7 linked regions of the Homo sapiens genome follow. The protein of the gene in region 3 interacts with the protein of the main gene of each other region in a biochemical or structural test. Each region holds a gene or a part of one and is shown on either strand. Other genes may lie near its edges. The genes, in order: ABCC6, MYOZ3, SHANK1, SDC3, CYTIP, DNM2 and IQSEC2.

The links.
Region 1: the proteins of SHANK1 (region 3) and ABCC6 interact in a test that uses a peptide from one of them, tested with the Homo sapiens proteins (one large-scale study listed by IntAct).
Region 2: the proteins of SHANK1 (region 3) and MYOZ3 interact in a test that uses a peptide from one of them, tested with the Homo sapiens proteins (one large-scale study listed by IntAct).
Region 4: the proteins of SHANK1 (region 3) and SDC3 interact in a test that uses a peptide from one of them, tested with the Homo sapiens proteins (one large-scale study listed by IntAct).
Region 5: the proteins of SHANK1 (region 3) and CYTIP interact in a test that uses a peptide from one of them, tested with the Homo sapiens proteins (one large-scale study listed by IntAct).
Region 6: the proteins of SHANK1 (region 3) and DNM2 form a complex in vitro, tested with the Homo sapiens proteins (one study listed by BioGRID).
Region 7: the proteins of SHANK1 (region 3) and IQSEC2 interact in a test that uses a peptide from one of them, tested with the Homo sapiens proteins (one large-scale study listed by IntAct).

What each region holds. Positions count from the first base shown.
Region 1 is NC_000016.10:16,216,995-16,220,494, forward strand, and holds part of ABCC6 (ATP-binding cassette sub-family C member 6), read right to left. Parts: intron 2,954-3,500; coding exon 2,828-2,953; exon of another isoform or gene 2,689-2,827; coding exon 2,560-2,688; intron 1-2,559.
Region 2 is NC_000005.10:150,674,751-150,678,250, forward strand, and holds part of MYOZ3 (myozenin-3), read left to right. Parts: intron 1-1,956; coding exon 1,957-2,125; 3' UTR 2,126-3,500. UniProt on the Homo sapiens protein: Myozenins may serve as intracellular binding proteins involved in linking Z line proteins such as alpha-actinin, gamma-filamin, TCAP/telethonin, LDB3/ZASP and localizing calcineurin signaling to the sarcomere.
Region 3 is NC_000019.10:50,717,003-50,721,237, forward strand, and holds the start of SHANK1 (SH3 and multiple ankyrin repeat domains protein 1), read right to left. Parts: upstream 2,801-4,235; 5' UTR 2,404-2,800; intron 1-2,403. UniProt on the Homo sapiens protein: Seems to be an adapter protein in the postsynaptic density (PSD) of excitatory synapses that interconnects receptors of the postsynaptic membrane including NMDA-type and metabotropic glutamate receptors via complexes with GKAP/PSD-95 and Homer, respectively, and the actin-based cytoskeleton.
Region 4 is NC_000001.11:30,881,259-30,884,758, reverse strand, and holds part of SDC3 (syndecan-3), read left to right. Parts: intron 1-3,500. UniProt on the Homo sapiens protein: Cell surface proteoglycan that may bear heparan sulfate. May have a role in the organization of cell shape by affecting the actin cytoskeleton, possibly by transferring signals from the cell surface in a sugar-dependent mechanism.
Region 5 is NC_000002.12:157,437,590-157,441,089, reverse strand, and holds part of CYTIP (cytohesin-interacting protein), read left to right. Parts: exon of another isoform or gene 1-1,814; intron 1,815-3,500. UniProt on the Homo sapiens protein: By its binding to cytohesin-1 (CYTH1), it modifies activation of ARFs by CYTH1 and its precise function may be to sequester CYTH1 in the cytoplasm.
Region 6 is NC_000019.10:10,724,579-10,728,078, forward strand, and holds part of DNM2 (dynamin-2), read left to right. Parts: intron 1-3,500. UniProt on the Homo sapiens protein: Catalyzes the hydrolysis of GTP and utilizes this energy to mediate vesicle scission at plasma membrane during endocytosis and filament remodeling at many actin structures during organization of the actin cytoskeleton.
Region 7 is NC_000023.11:53,311,351-53,314,850, forward strand, and holds part of IQSEC2 (IQ motif and SEC7 domain-containing protein 2), read right to left. Parts: intron 1-3,500. UniProt on the Homo sapiens protein: Is a guanine nucleotide exchange factor for the ARF GTP-binding proteins.

The sequences.
Region 1 (3,500 bases), on a different chromosome or scaffold from region 3:
CCCAGGCCTGGATCAGTCATGCCTGGGAGATCCCATGGGTATGAGCTAATAAATGCATGAGCTAATGAACCCCCTTGACTTACCCTTTTCATTAAGCTAGTGTGAACTGAGGTTTTATGGCTTTAAACCAGAGCCCTAGTTTTAAATCATGATTCCTCTACTGGATTTTATACTCTTCTAGTTTTGGGTTTTTGTTTGTTTGTTTGTTTTTTGGCAGATAGCAGACAATTGGATATTCCAATGACAATATGGCCCATCTTCCCTAAACTCCCACTGTTTTCCCCACTGTTTCTCTCAGAAAGTTTGTTCTGAATTTGCCTGAGATGAACTCGGGCTCTGCACTCCCAAGCTTTGTGGCCCTGAGGCCGTCATTCCCTTCTCCTAGCCTTAGTCTCCCTCATCTTTAAAATGGGACGGCTAGAATTCATCATTGGCTGGGGCACATTGGCTCAAGCCTGTAATCCCAGCACTTTGGGAGGCTTAGGTGGAAAGATCGCTTGAGCCCAGGAGTTTGAGACCAGCCTTGGGAACATAATGAGACTTTGTTTCTATTTCTATTTAAAAAAATAAAGAACCCATCACTGTGAACTCTTGTGAGAATCCAGTGAGGAGACGTGTGTAAGTGCCTGCCACAGTGCCTGGCACATGGTTGGAACCCCAGAATGTATATGGTCCCAGTATTATTGTTTCTATGCTGTGTCCCAAAAAGCTGACTTATGTCAACTGTGGGAGCCCACCATTTCAGAAATTACTGAATAACCTGTGGAATTTCCCCTTAGTTACAAAGGTTACTCTTTTAAAAACTCTGTCCTCGGTCAGGCGCTGTGGCTCACGCCTGTAATCCCAGCACTTTGGGAGGCCGAGGCGGGTGAGTCACTTGAGGTCAGGCATTTGAGATGAGCCTGGCCAACATATTGAAACCTTGTCTCTACTAAAAATACAAAAATTAGCTGGGCATGGTGGCACATGCCTGTAATCCCAGCTACTTGGGAGGCTGAGGTATGGGAATCGATTGAACCCGGAGGTGGAGGTTGTAGTGAGCCAAGATCGTGCCACTGCACTCCAGCCTGGGCAATAGAGCAAGACTCTGTCTCAGAATGAACAAACAAAAAATAAAAACTCTGTCCTTAAGGACAGGGTGATGCTTCTCTACCTTCTCCTTTAGGGGCAGGATGGAGTAACCACTGGACTGAAGAAATGATCTGTGAGTCCAGACGTGGTGGCTCATGCCTCTAATCCCAGCATTTTAGGAGGCTGAGGTCAGAGAATTGCTCGAGCCGAGGAGTTCAAGATCAGCCTGGGCAACAAAGCATGATGTTGTCTCCACAAAAATAAAATAATGAAGTAAAATATCTGAAACCTGCTGCAGCCTGTTCATTGGTGTTAAGATAACTCCCTCTCCCAGAAGCCTTGGCTAAGCACACTGTCGAGGCCAGTGCTTCTCAATAGGTGGGTGACTTTGTCCTCCTCACCCCCAGGGACACTTGGTAATATCTGGAGACATTTTGGGTTACTGCAATTGGATGGTATGCTACTGGCACCTATGGGCAGAAGCCAGGGATGCTGTTTCACACCCTGCAGCAAACAAGACAGCCCTGTCCACCCAACAAAGAATTGTCTGGCCACAACATTACTAAAGCTGAGGCTGAGGGAAGTTGGTCTAGGCTACATGTTTTTCTCTTTACAGAGAAAATGACCCATCATGTCTCCTAATAGAGAAACGCTGCTTCCGGCCGAATGACAAGAGCTCACGCCTGTAATCCCGACACTTTGGGAGGCCAAGGCAGGTGGATCACTTGAGGTCAGGAGCTCGAGACCAGCCTGGCCAACATGGTGAAACCTCGTCTCTACTAAAAATACAAAAATTTTTAGTAGAAATTTAGTAGAAATTTTTAGTAGAAATTTAGTAGAAATTTAGAATAAGCCAGGTGTAGTGGCACACACCTGTAATCCCAGCTACACAGGAAGCAGAGGCAGGAGAAGTGCTTGAACCCGAGAGGCAGAAATTGCAGTGAGCTGAGATCATGCCACTTCATTCCAGTCTGGGCGACAGAGCAAGCCTCTCAAAAAAAAAAAAAAAAAAAAAAAAAAAAAAGCTGCTTCCCAGATTGGGCAACAGAAATACGAGTGGTGTGCAGAATGAGTGTGTAAATATAGGTGCATAGGAACATGGGGAGGGTGAATCCATGACATGAGGGGAGGTGTGCACGGAGGGGTATGTGTGCACACAGGTGTGTCTGTGCCCAGGTTGTGTGTGTGTGCGTGCATGCATGTACTTGTGCGATGTATGAATCAGTGCCTATAAGTGTGTGCATCGTGTGCAAGTGGCACGTGTGATGTGGGCCTGTAAGACAGGAAATTGTGTTGATAAGAAATGTATGGGATGATGGGTACTGACAGGTGCGGGAGTGGATTTTGTGTCTCTAGAGTGTAAGTGACTGGCTTGTGTGTGTCACTGTATAGAGAATAAGTTGTATGTGGAAACAGGAGGAGAAAGGAAGGGACCCAAGGCATGAGCCACCATTTTGGTTTCCCAGGGTGGCCCACGCCCCGACTTACCGCTCCGGAGGCCTGCTGGGCAGCGTTGGTAGCTGGCAAGACAAAGCAGAGAAGCCAGTAACCAAACAGCACTCCAGATGACTGGACTCCCTTTTTCCTCTCGGTGTGAATCAGGAACACTGCGAAGCTCTGGACGGGAAAGTCAGGGAGGCCCCTTAGGGGAGGGTGGGAGGCTGAGGGGAGCCTCTTCTCTTCCCCTTGTTCTCCACTGTGGCAGGCAAAGCAGCAGCTGGGAGGAAGCCGGGCTCCAGACTGAAGGCATCATTACCATCGTGGTGAGCCACACAGTAGGATGAATGAGGAATTCTGGGGCCTCAGGCGTTCCCTGTTGGATTTTCCAAAGAGCGACAGCCACGCTGGAGGTACACAGGACTATGAGGGCGAATCCAAGCACCTGAGGATACAGGCTTAGATAAGCTTGGGGGGCAATAAGAGAGGTCACAGCAAACTGGTAGGCGGCCCCATGTCCAACTGGGAGCTGGTTCTGCAACATCCTGGCTGATACTGAGTATACCAGGGTCACCAGCTAGCAACGTGCCAATGTGAACAATGTGTAAAGGGCATTGCAGATCACTCCTGACCTGTAACTGTCATATAAATAATGCACAGGAAGGGCTTGAGCCAACCGAGTGTTTTCCAAAATGCAGGAAGTGCTCCAATCGTGCACATATGAGATGACTGTGGGTATGGAGAAACAGCAGGAAATGAAATGTACTCACCAGGTAAAAAACTATCCTTTCTCCAAGTCATTTTTCAATCCCTGCTATGAAATCAAGGAGCAACTCTCTGTTGGGCCAGTAAGTCTCTAGGGTCTCTCTAATATATTTTGGTTTCTCTATTGAATAAAAGAAAGGAAGAAAATGAGAGAACGTGGGCACACCAGAGGGAAGGCCAGAGCTAGGTTACGTTGGAGGAACTGCTCAAAGAACCTCAGTTTAAAG
Region 2 (3,500 bases), on a different chromosome or scaffold from region 3:
GCCTGTAATCCCACTTTGGGAGGCCGAGGGAGGCGGATCACTTGAGGTCAGAAGTTCAAGACCAGCCTGGCCAACATGATGAAATCTCATTTCTACTAAAAATACAAAAATTAGCTGGGCTTCTTGGCACACACTTGTAATCCCAGCTACTCAGGAGGCTGAGGTGGGAGAATCGCTTGAACCTGGGAGGCGGAGGTTGCAGTGTGCCGAGATCCTTCTACTACACTCTAGCCTGAGTGACAGAGCAAGACCCTGTCTCAAAACAAAACAAAACAAAACAACAAAAAAAAGTATTATTAAAATCACATACATAGGTTCTCTTTTAAAAAATGTTAGGCAAATAAATGTAGAGCCCCTTTGCTCACCATCCTCCAATCCCAGTTGCCTTCCCAAAGGTAACATGGTTGTCAGGCTGGCCTGAATGGGCTCAGAACATTTTGTGTGGGCAGCTGCATGCCTGTAGGGGGAATGGCGTTTGTGTGTGTGTGGGGGTGTGTGTGTTAATACTTTGCACTTCATTCTGTTAACTTGCTTTTTTTACTCAACATTACGCTTTCGAAATCTACCATACTAATACGTAGAGCTCTAGTTCCTTTTAAGCTGCTGTATAGTTTTCTTTTTCTTTTTTTTTCGCGGGGTGGAGCAGAGTTTTGCTTTTGTGGCCCAGGCTGCAGTGCAATGACACAATCTCAGCTCACTGCAACCTCTGCCTCTCAGGTTCAAGCAATTCTTCTGCCTCAGCCTCCCAGGTAGCTGGAATTACAGTCACCCACCACCATGCCCATCTAATTTTTGTGTTTTTACTAGCGACGGGGTTTCACCATGTGGGCCAGGCTGGTCTCGAACTCCTGACCTCAGGTGATCGGCCCTCCTCGGCCTCCCAAAGTGTTGGGATTATAGCCGTGAGCCACCGTGCCCAGCCTGCTGTATAGCTTTCTATCGTGTGAGCATGCTCTATCTGTCTTGCCCATTTCTCTGCTAGTGGACACGTGGGTTGTTTCTGGTTTGTCACTAATGTGCTGCTCAGGTCTGCATCCCAGTGCCTACGCGCCTGTGCTTTCCTAAGCCATATGCTCAGAGGTGAAGATGCGGGGTGACATAGTTCACACATTTCAGGTTAGAAAGATCCTGCCAAATTGTCTTCTGCGGTAGCAGCACTGGCTTACCCTCTAACCAGCAGCATGTGTGAAACTTTTCCCCCGCCATCTCACCAACTTTGCCCAGTTACCACATTATTTCATCGTGCCAGTGTCCTGGAGGAGAAATGGCATATCTGTTGTAATCTGCATTTCCCCCCTGATTTTCAGTGCTCTTTCTAATGCTCTCTTCTCTCTCTAGTTTTGGGCCTTTTGTCCTAAGGGGAGCTTACTGAAGGGGAGTCTAGAGTCTTGCCTAGGACAAGTCAATTCTGACTCCATCGGCTTCACTTCTATTGCTAAGCAACGAACCACCCAAGTAGGCGCAGACTTGGAAATGGGCAAAGTTGAAAAAAACCTCTTAAGATGTACAGAATTGCTGGGTGCGGTGGCTCACGCCTGTAATCCCAGCACTTTGGGAGGCCGAGATGGGCGGATCATGAGGTCAGGAGTTTGAGACTAGCCTGGCCAACATGGTGAAACCCCGTCTCTACTAAAAATACAAAAATTAGCCGGGCATGGTGGCACGTGCCTGTAATCCCAGCTACTCAGGAGGCTGAGGCAGGAGAATTGATTGAATCTGGGAGGCGGAGGTTGCAGTGAGCTGAGATCACCCCACTGCGCTCCAACCTGGGTGACAGAGCGAGACTCTGTCTCAAAAAAAAAAAAAAAAAAAAGATGTACAGAATCTTGCTGTATAGAAGGGAAAACTGAGGCTCAGAGAGCGGCAGGGAGGGGCCCATACATGGTGATCCACATGTCAGTGTACTGCTGTCCCTGTTCCACACAGCCCACCTCTCCTGCTGCTCTCTTTCTCCAGGACCCCGGTGCCATTTGGAGGACCCCTCGTGGGGGGCACTTTTCCCAGGCCAGGCACCCCCTTCATCCCGGAGCCCCTCAGTGGCTTGGAACTCCTCCGTCTCAGACCCAGCTTCAACAGAGTGGCCCAGGGCTGGGTCCGTAACCTCCCAGAGTCCGAGGAGCTGTAGCCCTAGCCTGAATCTTCAGTTCCCCAGTCTCGGGGGCCTGGTAACATCCGGAGCCAAGACTTGTGGACAGCACTTCACAGTTGAAGAAGGGCCTTCACACACAAAACCTGATTGCAAATGGCTTCAGAGGTCACCAAGTTCAGTCGTCCCAAAACATGGGTGTGTTTCAAAATTACCTGGGGATGTTGTTCCAAATCCAGACAACTGGACTGTCCCAGACTTGCAGCATCAGAGTCTCCTGAGTCGAGGAATCTGTATTATTAATAGCAACCAGGGCCGGGTGTCGTGGCTCACGCCTGTCATCCCAGCACTTTGGGAGGCCGAGGCAGGAGGATCACCTGAGGTCAGGAGTTTGAGACCAGTCTGGCCAAAATAGTGGAACCCCGTCGCTACTAAAAATACAAAAATGAGTCGGACATGGTGGTGCATGCCTGTAATCCCAGCTACTTGGGAGGCTGAGACAGGAGAATCACTTGAACTAGGAGGCAGAGGTTGCAGTGAGCCGAGATTGCGCCACTGCACCCCAGCCTGGACAACAGAGTGAGACTCCTTCTCAAAAGTAAATAAATAAATAGCAACCAGTACTCCAGGTGATTCCAGCATAACTTATCCATGGTTTGTGTCATTAGGAGTCCACATCCACACCTCTGCTCTTTCCTGTTCCTGTAGTGTACACTCCCCCGGTGACAGGGTGCTCACTGGCACCCCATCTTCCTGTGAATAACTCAAATAATTAGAAAATGTTCCTTTTACTGAGATGCAGTTGGTCTTCATCTATTCATGCTCTAAACAGTTCCTAAGCGCTGACTGTGCGCTAGACACTGCCAGGCCCGGGCCTCGAGGAGGAAAAGACAGTAGGGAAGACATTATAGAGCATGAAGTCACCATAATTTTCCCTAAAGCATGCTTATTGACAATTGAGGAACAAAGTGTTGTGGAGCAGAAGAAGGAGTCCCTCACCCTAGGTGTGAGATGGGATTCTGGAAGCTTCCTGAAGGATTTGAGTGGGACCTTGTGGGAGGCGTGAGAGTCCATGAAGGGGGTGTGAGGGGGAGGGTATTTCTGGAAAGTGGACCAGCATGTGCAAAAATATGGAACTGAGCACGGGTGCAGGGTGTTCTGCAGAAGGGAGAAGGCTGTGCTAGAGGAGCCAGTGAGGGCCAGCATGGGGTGGGCTTCACTAAGGAAATGGGGAAGGTTTTAGTGATGGGTCTTGCTGGGTGCTGTGTGGGGCGCATATTGGAGAAGGGTAATGCCAGAAGCCAGGAAGCCTGCAAGGGATGAGGCCATGGGAATGGAGAGAAGGGGCCACCCACTGGGCACCTAACAGGACAGGTGCAAAGTGGGGTGCTTATTAAGATTCCTTCTTTCCACT
Region 3 (4,235 bases):
ACCCCTCAGAGGCCGCAGGCGCTATTCGGTGGTCAAGCGGTCAAGGGCAGCCTACCCCCACTGCCCAAGATAGGCAGGAAGGAGGCTGGACACACCCTCGGCCTGCACGGCCTCCCCTGCCGCCTCCTCCCACGCTGGCACGCACACACCCCTGTCCCTGACATGCTTCTGGCATGTGTCTCCTTCCCTGCCCTTGGCCCCGCTTGCAGCCCGCCCCCTGCGCCCCACTTTGCTGGTGACCCAGCGTGGCCGTGTCCCAGAAACCGCAGAATCACCGCGGGAGCTACTGGCCCACTTTGCCAGGCCACAGAAAATGCAGCTAAAATTAGCTAAGGACAGACAGGTGGACAAACTGACAGGCATCCTGCCCTCCTGGCCCCAGCCTGGCCCCTCATCCCAGGGCCGGGGGGTGGGGTTGGGGAGAAGCTGAGGCTGACACTGAGATGTAGTAAGGGGGAGAGGGAGGTGTGGTGAGCCTGGAGCGGGTGGAGCTGGTGACTTCACTCAAGTGTGGCTGACAACGCGTGGCATGCCGAATAGTGCTGGGGAATCTGCCGTCCCAGGGGAGCAAGGGGCACTGAGATGGGGGTGTCATGGGCAGAGCATTTGGCCTAGGGTGTCCCCAAGGGAACCACAAGAGGTGGCTTTTGGAGACTGGGGCATCTTGAGAGGGTGTGCGGGTAGGTGGGGAGGTCGGCCTGGGGAGTGCTGTCCAGGTGACAGTGGTGTGGTGGCCCGGGTAGATGTGGGTGGCTGCAGATGACCTGTAGCTCTTTTCTAGGACTGCAGGGTGGGTGGGCTGGCTTGCTGGGTACTAGGGGCTCCACTCTGAGGACTGGGGGTGTTAGGAGGGAGGCTAAGAAGTGAGAGGAGGGTCTGGGGAACTGAGTGGGGGATCATCTCTAGATCCTTGCTGTTCTCCCTTGAGGTGGCCTTATGAGGGTGGAGCCCCTTCCAAATGGGGTCCGCCTCCCTTCTGTTCTCCCCCAACTCCCACCCCAGCACCGGAAACCAGAATGTCTGGTCTGGTCCCTCCCCCCAACACCAGGCCCGGTTCCTGCACCGTTGCCATGGAGATGGGAAGCAGTGGAGGGTACTGCTGACTTTGGGGGAGTGGGGATGGGCTGGGGGGTTGGGAAAGGGAAGACTAAATGTGTGTGGTGGGAGGAGAGTTCCAGGAGGTGTGGGCGAGCGAGCCTCTAACCCAGGGCCGGCGGACCCCTCCCCCACGCGCGGCAGCGCTGCGAAGCCCCCTCCCCCTCCAGGTACCCAGCCACGCCGCCCCACCTCGTCCCTGCGGAGACCCCGGCTGCCTCCTCCCTGCCCCGCCGCACAGCCCACCTCGCGATCTGGGGCCCGCAGACACTCCCCCTCGGCTGACCCTGGCTGACCCCCAGCCTCAACCCCGCTCGGAGGGGGTGGCCGGTGGGATGAAAGAAAAGCTGGCTAGGGCCCCCCGCGCGTACGGCTGCCCCAGCCCCCCCGGGCCGGCTCCGGCCCCTCCCCCTCAGGGCTCGCGGGAGGGAGCGGGCACGCTCCGCCGGGGCGGCATGAATCAAACGCTCCGCGGCTAAGAATAGCTGGCACGCAGCTGGTACCGAGACGGGCTGAGGAATCGGCGAGGGGGGTGGTGGAGGACGCGAGAGAGGGGGTGCCCTGGGAGGCTGTGGGGGGACAGGGGGCGGCTGGCGTGGCCGAGAGCGGGGCCGGGGAGAATGAATGGAGGCGGAGGGAGGCGGGGAGGGGCGGGGAGAGAGAGCCGGAGCCGAGGCTGGGAAACTGGTGGGGGAGAACCCGGCCGGGGAGAGGGGCGGGGGGCACCGGGGAGCAGGAGTCGGGGGCGGGAGCCGAGGGGGCGCGCCGGCCGGCGGTGTAGGGACTGGAGACCTGGTGGGGACGCAGGGAGCTTGGACAGGGGTGGAAAGGGACTGGAGGAGCCTGGAAGGAGAAGCGGGAGCTGGAGGGGTCGAAAGGGGCGGAGGAGGCCCGGGCCTAGACCCTCGCTGGAGGGGAGTGGGGACCAGGGTGACCTGGCGGAGGGGCCCAGGTACGCCAGGGAGGGCGAGGCGGGGGAGTGGCCGGGCTGGGCGGGGAGGCGGGTACCAGGACCGAGCCCTTGGCCCCGGAGAGCCGGGAGGCGGGTTCGGGATAGGGGCTCTGCTGGCCGGGGGTGGGGGGCGCGCCCTCCCATCAAGGATGCGATCTGGGACGGGGCACCGGGGACCCGGGCGTAACCCAATTTGGTGTCGCCCAGGGCAACGCTCCCCACCTCACCCGTACCCCCAGCCGCACACCCAGGCCAGGAGCCCGGCGCCGGGCCAAGGACATCCGGGGCGCCCTCGCCCCCTCCCGCGGCCCCGGCCCCGCAGCTGCCCCAAACCCCCAGGTTCTCGACCCCCTTACCTGCCTGGCGGGGCTGCTGAGTCCCGGTCGGCGGCGCCCGCGGCCCCTCCCCCCTCCCCCCACCCCCCACCCCCCCGGAGACGGGGACCCTCAGGCCATGCCCCACCGCCCCGGAGGGCGAGCGGGCCCGGGGAGGGGGCGGGCGGGGACCGGGGGGGAGGGCGGGAGGGCCGAGGACCTCACCCCCCCCGCGGGCCGGGCCTGGCCATCCGCAGAGCGCCCCCCCTTCCGCCGCGGCCGCCGCGCCCCTCCTCGCCCGCCCCCGGCTCGGTCCGGCCGGCTCCGGGCGCCGCGTCTCCGCCTGCTCTTCCTCCTCCTCTTCCTCGGGCCGCCGCCGCCGCCGCCCGCTCCGCGCCTCCTCTGCCACCCTTCTCGCTCTCTCGCTCTCGCTGTCTCTCCCTCACCCTGTCTCTCTCCCTCCCTCTCTCCCTCCCTCCCCTCCCTCCGCCCTCTCCCCTCCCTCCGGGAGCCGGCGGAGGAGACATCGCCCCTCCCCGCGCCCCCAAACCTCGCCCATCCCCCACCACCGCCGGCTCCGCCCCCTACCCTTGCCCTCCCCCACCACTCCTCCCCACCTCCGAGTCCCCAAATCCTGACTCCGCCCCTGCTTGCTCCCATACCCCGAGGAAGGGGTCCTGCCCCCATAAGGTGCCCCCCCACACACACCTCAGGACCACCCCCTCCCAGAGAGCTCCCCGCCGCCCTACACAGAGTGGGGCACAATAAATATTTGTTGCCAGACTCTACACCCCCAAATTTAAGTGTGAAGGCTATAGATTCCCACCCTGTCCCCCCAAACACACACACACCCTTTCCATTTAAGCACTGGGTCAGGGCACACGTGGACATACCTGGGCCAGGCCACATTTCCCCAAGGCACAGGTGCATAGTCACCAGCTGTAACGGCACCTGCAGAGTCCCCACATACACACACTCTCCAGCGCATGCATGCCCAGACACAATGCACCTGGGGTACACAGCTACAAACACACCCAGCTACATGCAGTTGTCACACCCCTGTGCCCGGGCACACACGCAGCACATGCACACATTTGCCCACCACACACGCACGTGCGCGCGCACACACGCACACAGGCGTTCACCCCGGTATGCATGCCCAGATCTCTCAACACCAAAACGGAGTTACAGCACTGTAGAGACGTGTGCACGCCTTCCCATCACACCCACCCACCGTGCTGTCCATTGCACTGGCTCGCACTCACCCGTTTACATGCCCAACACCGTGCCATCCTTCCCCTCCAGGATAGTTACTGCTGACATTCCTGGAGCACTTTCTGTGTGCCAGGCTCAGGGACTTTCGCCATCCCCATTTTCCAGAGGGGGAAACCAAGGAACAGAGAGGCTAAGTAACTTGCCCAAGGTCATCCAGCTGTAAGGAGGTGGTAACAAGGATCAGGAACAGGTAGGCTGGCTCCAAAGTCCTCACTTGACAACTATGGTGCACTACTGGGCATATCCCCTCATAGTTGCATATCCTTATTCATCACACACAGACACACCCAACCGTCTCCTCAGAGTTTGCACATGTCTGTGTAGGCACGCATATGCAGCCAGCTGCAGGCAGACAGCTCATTCATGCCTGGGACGCACCCACAGGGACAGAGCAGATCCCACAGGGCAGCAGTGAGTGGTGAGTGTCCCCTTAGCCCAGGCTTCCTCATTCTCCCAGCTCCAACAGCACCTCCAGGGCCTGCAGGGGGCAGTTCTAGGCAGCTTCTGGGTTCCCCTCCAGCTGCAGGCTCTCCGGGGTACCCGAGTATGAGCTGGAGGAGGTGCCTGCTCAGCCTGGGGAGGCCTCTATCTTGATGCGT
Region 4 (3,500 bases), on a different chromosome or scaffold from region 3:
AGAATCAGAAAGGCCCTTAGACCACCATGCTTGGTTTTCCATTTTGCAAATGGGGCAAAGGAAAGGCAGAGAAGGGGGAAGAGGATTTGTCCACGGTCTTGGAGGCTGTGGGCGCCTGAGCCAGGGCTGCTACCTGCTCTCCTGTTGGGGCTGGGGTGGGGATGTGGGTGGAGGCAGGTGCCACAGTGGGAAAAAGGGCATCCTGGGGGGATGGTGGGAACACAGGGCTGGGTAGAGGGCAGACTGGAGGTGACAGGAGAGATACAGGCTTGGGGTAGGGAGGGCTCTGCTGCCATGATATCTTTGCAGAGGAGTTGACTGGGATGGGACAGGCCCAAAGGGAACATTTCCTGCCCTCTGAGCTGCCTTTGTAGATGGGAGTAGGGGGTGGGGATAGGTTTGGTTTGTGAGAGGCTTGAGTGTGTGAGTTGGGGCGAGTGGGAGGGTGTGTGTCTGGGCTTGGTGGATTTTTCTTGGGGGGGGTCTGTGGTGTTTCAGCTTGGCCTTCTCTGCCCTCCCCATTCCACTCCTCCCCGGGCTTCTGCTCTCTGGGACTTGGGCTCCATAGCCCCTTCCCCAGCAGGTGCAGTCCTCGTGCCCCTCATCTCCAGCCACAAGTGGGTGTGGGACTGCCGGCTTCCTGGCCAGGGCAGCTGTGGCTGGGTGGGGGTGGGGACTGAGACATCCCCCTCCTGGTCCCGGCTCCCAATTGTGCAGCCCCCTTGGCTGTCTTGCTGCCCGGAGCTTGGCCCCAGCCCACATTCCTGCGGTGATGCTCTGGGTCTCCGGGGTGGATCTGGTGAGCGTGAGGGGCACTGAGTTCTCACAGGACTGAGGGCTTTTTGGGGACGGAGCCTGCAGGGATCCAGAGGGCCATGCTGAGACACCCTCCCTCCCTGCCTCGAGGAGCTAGTAGTTACGTCGCTGTGTGTCTTTGGGCAAATCACTTTACCTCTCTGAATGCTTCGTGGCAGACTAACCCCGCCCCCTCCTTTCGTGATAAGCAAGGCTTTCCCCTCTCTGTGCCTCAGTTTCCACATCGGTAAAAGGGGAGAGTTGAACTCAGTGATCCCTCAGGCCCAGTGTAGCCTTGAAGTTGCAGCCTGAGGTGGGAAGTGCAGGCTGTAGGAATATAGACAAAGCCTTATACGGCTCCGACTGTGTGCAGGCATGATCTCACTTGATTCTCACAACTGCCCTATGAAGTATCATTGTTGGCCTCATTTAACCAAACAGGCTCAGAGAGGTTAAGTAACACATCCAAAGTCACCCAGCAAGTAAGCAGAGCTGAATTTGAATCCAAGACTGTCAGAACCTAAAGCTGGGCCCCCACCCCTTGCTCATGTCGCCTCTGGTCACCAGGAAAGTGAGGCCTGAGTCTGGCTAATTAGGGGAAGGAAGCTCGGGCAGAACTAATTACACTCGATTTTATTCTTGGCTTTTTGCAACATGATTAGCGCTGCACAGGGGTGCCGGGCTCCTGGCCCCCAGCCTGCTGACCTAATTTGTGTGCTTGTGTCTGTTTCTGTAACTTGCCCTTTCTCCCCCTTCATCCAACCTCTCTCTTTTTGTCTCTCTCTGCACTCTCCCCTGCTGTGTGGCCTTGGCAATGCCACTTAACCTCTCCGGGCATTAATCGTCTCATCTGCCTGGGTGTAGTCATCCCAATTTGGCTTCCCTCATGAGGAGGTTGAGGCTTACATGAGATAAAGGCTTCGAAATAATAATAGAAATTTTAACATAAACTAACAGCAATCGTGGCTACACTGATTTATTCATTTTTCACTTGGTGTCGGGTCCTGTGCTTAGCCCCTTCCCACAGCAATGCTATGAGCTGCGTAGTCTTCTCATCATCTCCATTTTACAGATGAGAAAACTGAGGTGCTGAGATTAAATGGCTTGCCTGACAGCCAACCGGGTAGTAAAGAGGAGCTGGTTCATTATGCTTTGCCTCTGTGCTGACCGGTTTCTCTAGGAAGGCTCATGGTGGTGTGGGGCTGGGCACGAGAGACCCCAAATTCTGGAGTGGGCTCTGAGAGAGGATGGGGTGGGAGGGATGCACTGGCCTTCCTGAACGTGTCCCCTGCACTCAGAGTGAGTGATGAGTGGGTGGGTAGAGGTAGCCGTGAAAGTGAGGAGACTTAGCTGACATCCAGCTCATTTGGACCCTCACCCATCACAGCCCTGATGGGGTGCTCCTGGGAGGGAGGGGGCTGGGCAACCTGGGAGGTGGCACCTCCTTGCCCCTGGCCCAGGGGAGCCTCCCCAGCTGCTGCTCTAAAACTCTAGGAGAGGATCGGTGGGAGTGGATGTGGAGTGAGGGGGCCTGTGGGTCACTGCTGGGCCTGGTCCCTTCTGGGCTGGGAGCCTGAGGTGCCTCTGTGGAGTGAGGCTGTGGGTTACTTCAGGAAGGTGTGGTGACTAGGGGACTGTGAGGAAAAATGGAAGCAGGGGGCATCAGTCCACTAGGAAGGGTGCCACATTTCATCCCGATGTGTGTGTGCACTTGTGTGTACCCGGAAGGAAAGTGCGTGTTTGCGCGCATGTGTGTGTGGAGGGAACTGAGATGCAGGTATTGTGGACCTGTTAATGGCATGTGAGGCGGGATGTATGTCTGCTGGGGCAGGTTCAGGGAGGGACAAGTAGGCTGCGCACATGTGGAGGCAGGGTGTTGGGAGTGCCTGGTGTGTTGGGTCCCGTGCTCAGCCCCTTCTCCTGCAATGCTATGAGCTGCATAGTCTTATCACCATCGTGTGCTGGCGCGTGGGTGTGGATGTTGGGTGGGCATGGACAGCTGTGGGCATTGCCGAGTTGATGTCATGCAGGGGGTGAGGGCAGCTGCGGGGCACAGATGTATGAATTTAGCCCTGGACAAGCAATGGGTCTGGGGGTGGCTCAGGAATGTCCAGGACAAGGGTTTCAGAGACAGAGGCCTCATGCCTGGATTCTAACCCCTGCCTCAGTTCCTGCATCTGTGGAATGGGGATGATAAAACCCTGGGCAGTTGTGATGCTTAAAGGAGGCTGCATAAATAACATGCTCCCAGCACCTGGCCTGGGGCAGGCCCTCAGCAGCAGCAGGCAGAGGTCTCTAGAGTGCCCTGGGAACGCTCAGCGGCTCCCCTGGGACCTGATGCTCAGGCCTTCATGGGCCGCTTGCGGAGCCTCTGCTGGGTGTCCCCTCCCGAGATCAGTGGTGGCCGGAAGCAGAAGGTTCAGTGCTTCCACCGGGCACGCTCGCTGTGTGTGGGGGGTGCAGCCGAGAGGAAAGGTTGTATCCGAGTTGTGAGGTTCATGTCTGAGTCAGAGGATGCACCTGCCGAGGGTGATGTCTAGGAGCGATGTGTGTTTAGGGAACATACGTGGCCATGGCGGTGGGTCCGTGTTGTGGGCCTTGGTGAGGTGAGTGTGGTGCGTGGGGTCAGGAGAATGTGCTGAGGTTTCTCGGGGGCATCCGTGGGGTGTGTGGTGAGGAGAGGAGTGTGTGTGTGTGTCTGTGAG
Region 5 (3,500 bases), on a different chromosome or scaffold from region 3:
TCTTCAGAATCAATTGGGTGTTTACATTCAGAATTATTTAAAGATAGATTTCTCTGTGTGCATATTATCTCACTACCTGTACTGATAGGAAGTGTCAGACACCCCAGTATGGCTTCTACTTGTGAACACAGTTTTAGGACAAAAAAAAAAAATCTTTGCAATGGAAAGCTCGGTAGGAAGGAGACAGGAGGAATTAAGGACAGTCTCTATCAATGATGTCAAAGAAGTAGTGATTGTCTTACCACCCACTCTCATAAATGTAGTACGTTGCTTTTGGAAAGCAGTTTTTACAGAATGCTATAGTGAGAACCAGGGACCTGACAAACAAGTCCACAAACTTCAGTGGTACCACAGACTGACTCTCTTTTCCTAATTTTCTTTTAGTTATCACATTATTGCTAAATAGGCAACTTCTGGCAGGCTGATTTCATCTATAAGTTCAGATAGGGAATGTGTGCTCTGCTCTGGGATGTGTACACTGCTGGGCTGGGCTCTGCCCTGCAGGAGCTTTCACGGTGTGTCCGGCAGCACACCCATCAGGTGCCGTAACTCCCAATTGTCCTGAACTACACCAAAGGATTTTAATCACCTCATGACAATTTTAGGTAGAAAACTGTGCTAATTTCACTAGAAAAGACTTTGAAAATTATTCTTTAATCTGTATTGTGGCATGCATGGTCAATATCCAATAATTTTTCTTGAAGAGTCTGTGAGCCCACCATCAGACCTTACTTGGAAATGGCGGTATTGTATTTCGGTTTCTCCGGGCACTTAACGTCAGGAAATTAAGTTCAGCTCCATTATTTTGTTGCATCTTTGAATAGTCTGTGGAGCGTTGATATCCTAATGCTCCTTATTTAAAAGTGGGTGGGAGTTGCATGGAAGAATTGGGGAGTGAGGCAGGGGACTGGAAAGGGAGCAGAGCACATAATTTTGGGGCCTTTGAAACAAGTAACAGTGACAAAAAACCTCACTCTGGAATCAGTAACCTCTCCCCCGCACCCTCCCCAACACTTTCAGGAGATGAGTATATAGAGTGGGGACCAGGAGGAAGTAACCTCTGTAACCCAGAAGTGGCTAAAGTGTTGAACTTTGAGCTTCTCTAAGGAGAGCTGGCTATCTGGCTGAGCTGCCAAGTACTCCTGTCTTTCAGAAATTGACAGCTGAAGTATTTGGTCTTGGTTTCCCACTGAAGAGGAATGTGTAGAATCACTGCAGAGCAGAAGAAATTAAATTTTGAATATTAATGCCTGATCTTTTAAGTTATCTGACTAAAAACAGAAGAGTGATCATAAGCCCAACCCTAGGTATCAGTGTATTATGGCTAGCAAGGAGTTAAGAAGCTTTGTCTATTCAGCAGTCATAATTGAATGTGTAGTTTGCAAGCCTGCCAAATTGCTAAACCTAGATTTCTCATATTAGATAATGTGTAATAAAAGACAGCTGTTGCCAGCATATGCTGTGAATTGCACACCAGTTCCTCATTCATGATTTTTGGCGCCATCACTACAACCCTTAGAAAAGGCTCTGACTGGAGGGCTGTCTGGGGAACATAGACCCCACTGGTCAGATCCTTGAATAAGGCTGCTCGCCCTAGGGAAAGCGGGGCAGGAAAGACTTTTTTTTTTTTTCAAAGTGCAAAACCCTTGATAAGACCTTAGACACACTTCATTTCACTTTAGGCAGGTAGTTTGGTGTGTGAGCTAGTTTCGAACCCTGGGAACATTCCTTTCCACATCGCCTGAGTCTGACAGCCCGGATCAAAAACAAGCAGGCTTTGTGTCAAGACGTGGCACGTGTCAGAGAATTTGACGGTACTTAATTTATTTAAATTGTTTTTTGTTTAAGTGTTAGATGCTTGAAACAGCCTCTTAGCTAATACCGAATGGAAACTAATTTGTAATTTGACTTAATCTGACTTTTGGTGTTGCTGATAACCCAAATTAGTCAGTCCACAGGAACTGAAAATCTGCTATGCTTCTCATGTTGTGCTAGACAAATATTTTCATCTTTAACTAGTCAATTAGCTAGATAGAAAGGTTAGAAGTAGAGTGGTGGGGGAAATATCTATAGAGGCTTCAGGTCTGTCCTGTGGTTTAAAAGATTTTACATTTGAATCTATCCAGAATGACTTTTGATTCAAAAGACCGATTGGATGAAATCTTGAAGTTCCTAATAGATGCACTGATTTCCGGCATACTAAAAGGGTATTTAAAATTGACAAGGCTCAAAATTTTACTAATAATTTATTAATTCTTGCCACCATTCATCCACTTAGCAGCTATGTACTAAGGCACTACTATCTTTGTTTTCTGTTAGTACTTTTTCTGCATTTCTTGTTTCGGATTGAATTTTTTTTTTTGTTCTTGTCTGTTTTCTTTCATTTAAAATTTTTTGGTTTTTAAAATTTGTACTTATTCAGTTGATATATAATCATACATACTCATGGTATACATAGTGATGTTTTGATACGTGGAATGTACAGTGATCAGATCAGAGTAATTAGCATATCCATCACCTCCCTCACACAATGATCATTTCTTCATTTTGGGACTGTTGAATATCCTCCTTCTAACTATTTGAAACTAGTACATGATATACTATTGTTAACTATAGTTAGCCTACAGTATAGAGCACTAGAACTTATTCTTCCTATCTAGCTGTAATTTTTTATCCTTTAACAAGTGTGTCCCTATCCATTTCTTCCCCCAACCCTTCCCAGCCTCTAGTATCCTCTGTTCTACTTTTTACTTCTATGAGATCAACTTTTTTTAGCTTCCACATATGAGTGAGAACATGTGGTGTTTAACTTTCTATTCCTGGCTTATCTCACTTAACATAATGTCTTCCAGTTCAATCCATGTTGCTGTGAATGACAGGATTTCATTCTTTTTTATGGCTGAATTGTATTCCATGGTGTATATATACCACATTTTCTTTATCCATTCATCTGTTGTTGGACACCTAGGCTGATGCCATCTCTTGGCTATTGTGAATAGTGCTGTAATAAACATGGGAGTGCAGATGTCTCTTCGATATAATGATTTCCTTTCCTTTGGATGAATTCCCAGTAGTGGGATTGCGGGATCATATGGTAGTTCTATTTGTAGTTGTTTGAGGGACCTCCATACTGTTCTCCATAGTGGCTGTACTAATTTACATTCCCACTAACAGTGTATGAAAGTTCCCTTTTCTCCTTATCCTCACCAGCATTTATTATTTATTGTCATTTTGATCATAGCTATCCTAACTGGTGTGAGATGATACCTCATTGTGGTTTTAATTTCCATTACCCCAATGATGAGTGATATTGAGCATTTTTTCATATATTTGTTAGCCATTTGTATGTCTTCTTTTTCTTCCTTTCTTTTTTTTTTTTCTTTTTTTTTTTGAGATGGAGTCTCACTCTGTCGCCAGGCTGGAGTGCAATGGCATGATCTCAGCTCACTGCAACCTCCGCCGCCCGGGTTGAAGCGATTCTTCCAACTCAGCTTCCCTAG
Region 6 (3,500 bases), about 40 Mb from region 3:
GGTCCTGATGTGGGAGGATGCCCGGAGGCCAGTTTAGCAGGCCAGTGGAGGGAGATCAGATCTGGGAGATATTAGGGTGGGACCAGGCCTCTAGGAACATTGTGGGCAGGGAGGCTGTCTGAGCAGAGGGAAGTAAAGCTGGTGGCGCTACTGCTGTCCCTCTGGACCTGGCCAAGCTGAGGGCTCTCTCCTTTGATTTCCAGCTTCAACTCAGTTTTCTCAGTAAGCAGACTCCACAGGCATGTAGGCGCCCCGTGCCATTTTTCTTTTAATAAGAAGCAGCTGTGCCGGGGATGCTGGCGTTTCCAGCTGCGTTTTTATTTGGCCTTTGGTGATGTGTCCCTCCAGGGATATGTGGATGAGCCGCGGGGGCACTGCCTGTGCCTCAGTGGGTGCTGCACCAGTGCACATCGGATGCCCGTTGGCTCCTGTCCCTGACAGATGGAGGGGCACGTGATGTGTTCCTTGGGCTGGTTTGTCCCTTTAACAGATCTTATTAGTTTAGAGCCACTTGGAAATGACATCTTCTGTTTCCAGTGACTTTCCTTTTGGGCAAAGACAAATTGCATCTTGAAAAGGCCATACATGGCCGGGCATGGTGACTCACACCTGTAATCCCAGCATTTTGGGAGGCCGAGGCAGGCAGATCACAAGGTTGGGAGTTTGAGACCAGCCTGGCCAACATAGTGAATCCCGATCTCTACTAAAAATACAAAAATTAGCCAGGTGTGGTGGCGCATGCCTTTAGTCCCAGCTATTTGGGAGGCTGAGGCAGGAGAATCACTTGAACCCAGGAGGAGGAACTTGCAGTAAGCGGAGATCACGCCATTGCACTCCAGCCTGGGGGACAGAGTGAGACTCCATCTCAAAAAAAAAAAAAAAAGGAAAAAAGGAAAGGCCATGCAAGGCTCGGTTAGGGTGGTCTGCAGTGCTGGGCCTGCTGGAATTGGTACAGTCCAGAGGGATCTGTGGGAATATGGAAGGCTTGGTTCTGCCACACACCAAAAAAGTGACCTCACTTCTCTGGGCCTCAGTTTCCTCATCTGGAAAATGGGAACATGGTGGTCTCTGCCTACTGGGAGTGGACTGAGAATCACGTAGCAAATTGTTGTGAAACAGGCAGCATTTGTGATCTCGTTGGTTGGCTTTTGTCTCCTTTTATCTGGGATCAGGACTCTGATGACAGGTGTACGTTTCTTTTCTCTTGCTCTGTCCCCCAGACTGGAGTACAGTGGCGTAATCATGGCTCACTGCAGCCTCCAACTCCTGGGTTCAGGTGGTCCTCTCACCTGAGTCTCCTGAGTAGCTGGGACTATAGGCATGAGCCACCACACCTGGCTAATTACAAAAAAATTTTTTTGGCAGGGAGCGATGGCTCACACTTGTATTCCCAGCACTTGGGGAGGCCGAGGCGGGCGGATCACGGGGTCAAGAGATTGAGACCATCCTGGCCAACATGGTGAAACCCTGTCTCTACTAAAAATCCAAAAATTAGGTGGGTGTGGTGGCTCTCACCTGTAGTCCCAGCTGCTCGGGAGGCTGAGGCAGGAGAATCGCTTGAACCTGGGAGGCGGAGGTTGCAGTGAGCCGAGATCGTGCCACTGCACTCCAGCCTGGGCGACAGAGCGAGACTCTGCCTCAAAAAAAAAAAATTTTTTTTTTTTTAGAGACAGGGTCTTACTTTGTTGCTCAGTTTGGTGTCAAACTCCTGGGCCCAAGCGATCCTCCTGCCTTGGCTTCCCAAAGTGGTGGAATTACAGGTGTGAGCCGCCGAACCCGGCCTTAGTTTCTTTTTCCTTAAAGAGAAGGAACTCATCATTACTCTGTTGATATAAATGGAGTGCCTATCAGTGCAGGCAATGTTCTTGCTCTGGGGATACAGCCAGGACCAGGACATGCAGGCACGCCCTGTTCCCCAGATCCTGAAATATCGACCAGAAGTTGTTCCTGGTTCCTTTCTAAGTGGGAATCATGGCTGCAAACAAGTAATTGGCCGTGAGAGTTATTTACACACATTTTGTGTACGGTGATGAGAAATGGGAGAAAAAATGCCCAGCATCGGATCACCAGAGGTCAGGAGTTCGAGACCAGCCTGGCCAACATGGTGAACCCTCATCTCTACTAAAAATACAAAAATTAGCCGGGCGTGGTGGCAGGCGCCTGTAATCCCAGCTATTCGGGAGGCTGAGGCGGAGAATCGCTTGAACCTGGGGGACGGAGGTTGCGGTAAGCCGAGATTGCGCCGCTGCACTCCAGCCTGGGCAACAGAGCGAGACTCTGTCTCAAAACAAACAAACAAACAAAAACCAATGATAGGGGATTTGGCCAGATAAGCGTGTCCAGACAACCGACTATCAACTCGCTACTCAGAGGGATCTAGAAGAATCTTTAATGACCCAGAAAGCTGCACAAGACCTGTTAGGTACCAGATGAAATGGGCTGTGGGATCCTGTCTTGTTTAAAACGATTGTATTTGCTCAGTGAAAAGACCGGAAAGACATACTCTGCCCTAACCCCACATGTGAATCGTCTCCCCATGTGATTCTTGGTTTGTTTTTGCTGGTTTGGGGATTAGGTTTATAATCAGGAAGACAGATTTCTCCAAAGCTGCGCTCTAGGCTGTCCAAGTGCTTTTTCAGAGTTACTTATTGACGGATAACAGCCCTTGATAGGTTCATAACATTGAAATCCCCTGGTAATAACCTGGATTGTTTCTGGATGAGGGCGGAAGATGGCCTTGGGGACAGTTGTAGATTTAGAGAGGAGGTTTTCTTTTCTTTTCTTTTTCTTTTTTTGTTTTTTTTTGAGACGGGATCTCACTCTGTTGCCTAGGCTGAAATGCAGTGGCGTGATCACAGCTCACAGCAACCTCAACTTCCTGGGCTCAAGGGATCTTCCCACTTCAGCCTCCCAATTAGCTGGGACCACAGGTGTGCGCCACCACCCCCAGCTAATTTTAAGAAATTTTTTGTAGAGGTGGGGTCTCATTATTTTTTGCCCAGGCTAGTCTCAAACCCCTGGGCTCAAGTGATTCTCCTGCCTCGGCTTCCCAAAGTGCTGGGATTACAGGCAAGAGCCACGGCACCCGGCCTAGGTTAGATTTAGAGTTTTCAGAGTTGGCTTAGGCGGTAGAGGCTGGCCTTTGAATGGAACCCTGTCTCGCTGTCGCTCTCAGCGTTTATATTTGGCTCAGAGCCACATCTGCCAAACTTCTGCCCGATTTGAATGAAAGTGCTGAAATTATAGGCCCCTCGGCTGCTGAAAAAAAGTGAGAACATCATGTAAACCGTAATTTACTGGGATTGCCAACTACAAGCTGTAATTAAGCCCTTATTGTGTTAAAGCTTTGGAAAAATCCAAGCCAATAATGAGATATTTATAGGGCATTAGCTACAATCTGAATAAAGGGAAAATGTGGCCCTGCGTCTGAAGCAGGACTGCAAAGAGAGGAAAGACGCCTGCTTCCGGGTGCGTTTTGGGTTTCTGTGAATATTGGTAAC
Region 7 (3,500 bases), on a different chromosome or scaffold from region 3:
TTAAAACCCTACTGGTCATGAACGCTGCCACTCCTCTGAGCTTCCAGAGCAGGCTGCGCTCCCCTCCATCATCATCTTTCTCCCCACATAGGTTATCTCTACTCCCACTGCCCAAGCACAGGCCTGATCATCTCTCATCTAGACTGCTGTACCAGCCTCCTCCCTGGATACCCTCCAATCTATCTTCCAAACTGCCCTCTAGGGGGATCTCTCCAAAACGTGGCTCTTGACATGTTCTCCCACACCACAATAAGCACCTCTCCCCCAGTTTAAAATGCTACTTGGCCAGGCATGGTGGCTCATGCCTGTAATCCTAGTACTTTGGGAGGCCAGGGCAGGTGGCTCACCTGAGGTCAGGAGTTTGAGACCAGCCTGGCCAATATGGCAAAACCCTGTCTCTACTAAAAATACAAAAATTAGCCAGGCATAGTGGCACACGCCTGTAATCCCAGCTACTCGGGAGGCTGAGGCAGGAGAATTGCTTGAACCTGGGGCGGGGAAGAGGCTGCAGTGAGCTGAGATCACGCCACTTCACTCCAGCCTGGGCGAAAGAGCAAAACTCCGTCTCAAAAAAATAAAAACAAAAACAACACAAAAACAAAACAGCAGAAAGCTCCTGACGCTGCTAGTGAAGTGTCCTCAAGATGTGAGCCGGCCAACCCTCCAGACTCCCCTGCGAGTCTCTCTGTTTGTGCTCTAGTTTGTACTGAACTCATAAAAAAACAAAACAAACAAACAAAAAACCTCCCCATACACATATCCTGCTGGGCCCATACCTCTGTGTGTTTGCTCATGCTGGCCCCTCTGCCTTAACCTCCCTTTTGCCCCCAATTCCCACCAACCCACATGCTGTCCTTCTTCACCTAGCTAACTCAAACTCATCCTCCAAGCCTCAGCTCAGGTATCACCTCCTCCAGTAAGCCTTCCCTGACAGTCCAGGGTGATGTCTCTCCTTTGAGCACCTGTGGCCCCCTGTGCTCCCCTCTGGCATGACACACTGGATAGCACACTGCAATCGTCTATTTCCACCACCACCTTCTCCACCCAATTATGAGCACCTTGAAGCCAGGAACTATATACTAATCATAGAATTCTCTGCCTGTGATGGCACAAGGCATGGCACATCCTGGCATGCAATGTTCACTGGACTGACCTCTCTCTCTGAAATGTGGTGAGCTGCCACATGGTTTCTCCTCCTGTCCTCCCACAGCACAGAGCTTTACAGAGTTATTATTAATAATAATGGCTATCGCTGAGTAAACACATACTGTGTGCTCAGCGCTTCACCTACGTCATCTTATTTAATTTTCACAACCATCACAATGAGATGGGTTGTTTATGAATTGGCTGGCATATCAGATATACAGTTGTGAGAGATGCCTCTCAGATTTATAAGAAAATGTGGGGGAAGAGCCAAGTTAGGTACTTTTCATCACAGATATAATGACAATAATTCTAAAGTGGTTATATGAAGGAAAATATTGGTTTTATTCAGGTGAATGCAGTATGCTGTATCCTGGAATCCAGCAGGAAATCACAGGGCCTGGATATGCAGTCCTATCACTCCTTTAAAAAGGTATAAAAATCACATCGCTCCAACGAAATGCACTAGTGAAACATTAGTGAAATGGTACCTATTAGGTGATGATAGTGATACATTTACATCTAAAATGTTGGAGGAATAATCCTGATCAGCCGTGTAGCTCTGGCTTGTCATCTTTGTTTTGAAAGGGATGCGATGCATCGGTCTTTGCATTGTTGTGTGTTTGCCACATTCCGCCTCTAGGGGGCAGGGCAGTCTCATGTATTATTTTCCATTCTCAGCTTTCCAGCCTGATCAGGACCTTGATGTACGGTATGCCAGGCAGCCAGGAAATTTTCTGATACAATTTTTTTGAGGGAGGTAGGGGGCTGGCAACATGAATCTCATGCATCAGAAAATACAGTTTTATTCCTATTTACTACTTGAGAAAACTGAGGCTCTGAAAGTGAAGTGATTTGCCTAGAGTTACACAAAGTCCTTCCATGGCACCACACTTTCTCTGAATGCTAAGGTCCCAGAGAGCTTCAGCTACTAAGCACTGGGGAATGGGCTTCCCCGTGTAAATGCTTCCAACAGGCAGGCTTGGAGAGAAACCAAATACCATGAGGAAGTTATAGTAACTGGCAAATTATGTTGCCCTAAACGAGCTTCCCCAAAAGAGGAAGTAAGTCACTTACTAAGCATTCTTCCCCATGACCAATGTTTATGATCCTGCCAGGGAACACTGCAGTGAGTGAGGCAGAGGGGCCAAGTCTTATGTCAACCCTGAGATACCATGTCCAGCTCAGGGTCTGAGCTCAAGAAAGGTTTGATGGATAAATAAGCAACTTCCCACTGGGCTGAGTGAACTGCACACAGGTCCTGTGCAGGCCTCTTTGCTCCTTTCAGAACAGAAGACTTGGCATCGAGGGTCAGGACCACAGCCTGACATGGCAGGGAGAGATAATGATCAGCAGATTGGTCTAAATGTCTCCAAAGTCTCGTCCAAGTCTGCTACCTTGACATTCTATGAATCGGAAGGCTGGTGAGCGTGAGAAGAGACAGCAAAGGCCAAAATGGCTCCAGGGAGCATGAGAAAAAAGCCACAGAAAAGCCAAAAGAATTTATTTTTCCTTAGGGATGGGATCTCAATTTGTTGCCCAGGCTGGAGTGCAGTGGCACAATCATAGTTCACTGTAACCTCAACCTCCCTGGCACAAGTGATCCTCCCGCCTTGACCTCCCAAAGTGCTGGGAGCTACTGTGCCTACCCCAAGAGAATTCTGAAGTTGTCATTTCTTACTACAGGAGTCCTGGAAGGAAGAAAAAATTAGGTACCTTTGGCTATTAGTTCAGCAGGACTCAATCAGACATTCATTTATCTACTCAGTATTTATTAAGCAGCTACTATGTGCTGTGCTATGTGTTTCCAAGCTTTTAGCTCCTTCACTCATGCCCACAGCACCTAACACAGAACCTGACACACAAAATGCACTCAGTATATGTCAGTTAAATGTAAATCTGAAGGGGGTCTCAGTCTAACAGAGGGGACATGAGATGTAAACAACCATGAAGGAATAAAAAGGGGCAATGTGCTCATTGAGAGGGTCAAGGATAGACCAAACATCAGAGACACCAGCAAACAGACATAGGAGAGGTAACAGCTGAGTCCAGCCTGGGAACTGGGTACAGCAGCCCAAGAGAAGGGAACAACATGAGCAAAGACCTAGAGGCTAGCAGAAGGCCTGAGTGGGCTAACCAGGGGGGCACACGGGTCAGCCTGGCTGGAGCATAGTCTGTACAAAGACGAGAGGAAAAAGGCAAACTGGGGACAGATCCTAAGAAGACCATGCAGGGCAGGCGGAGGAGTTCTCAGGCCAAAGAGAGAGTGAAACTACTGGAGCTGGACTGCAGAACATGGTCTGGCTGCACCTCATCAGAGGCTTGATGGAGAGAGAGCAGGAGGGGCAATCTACTAG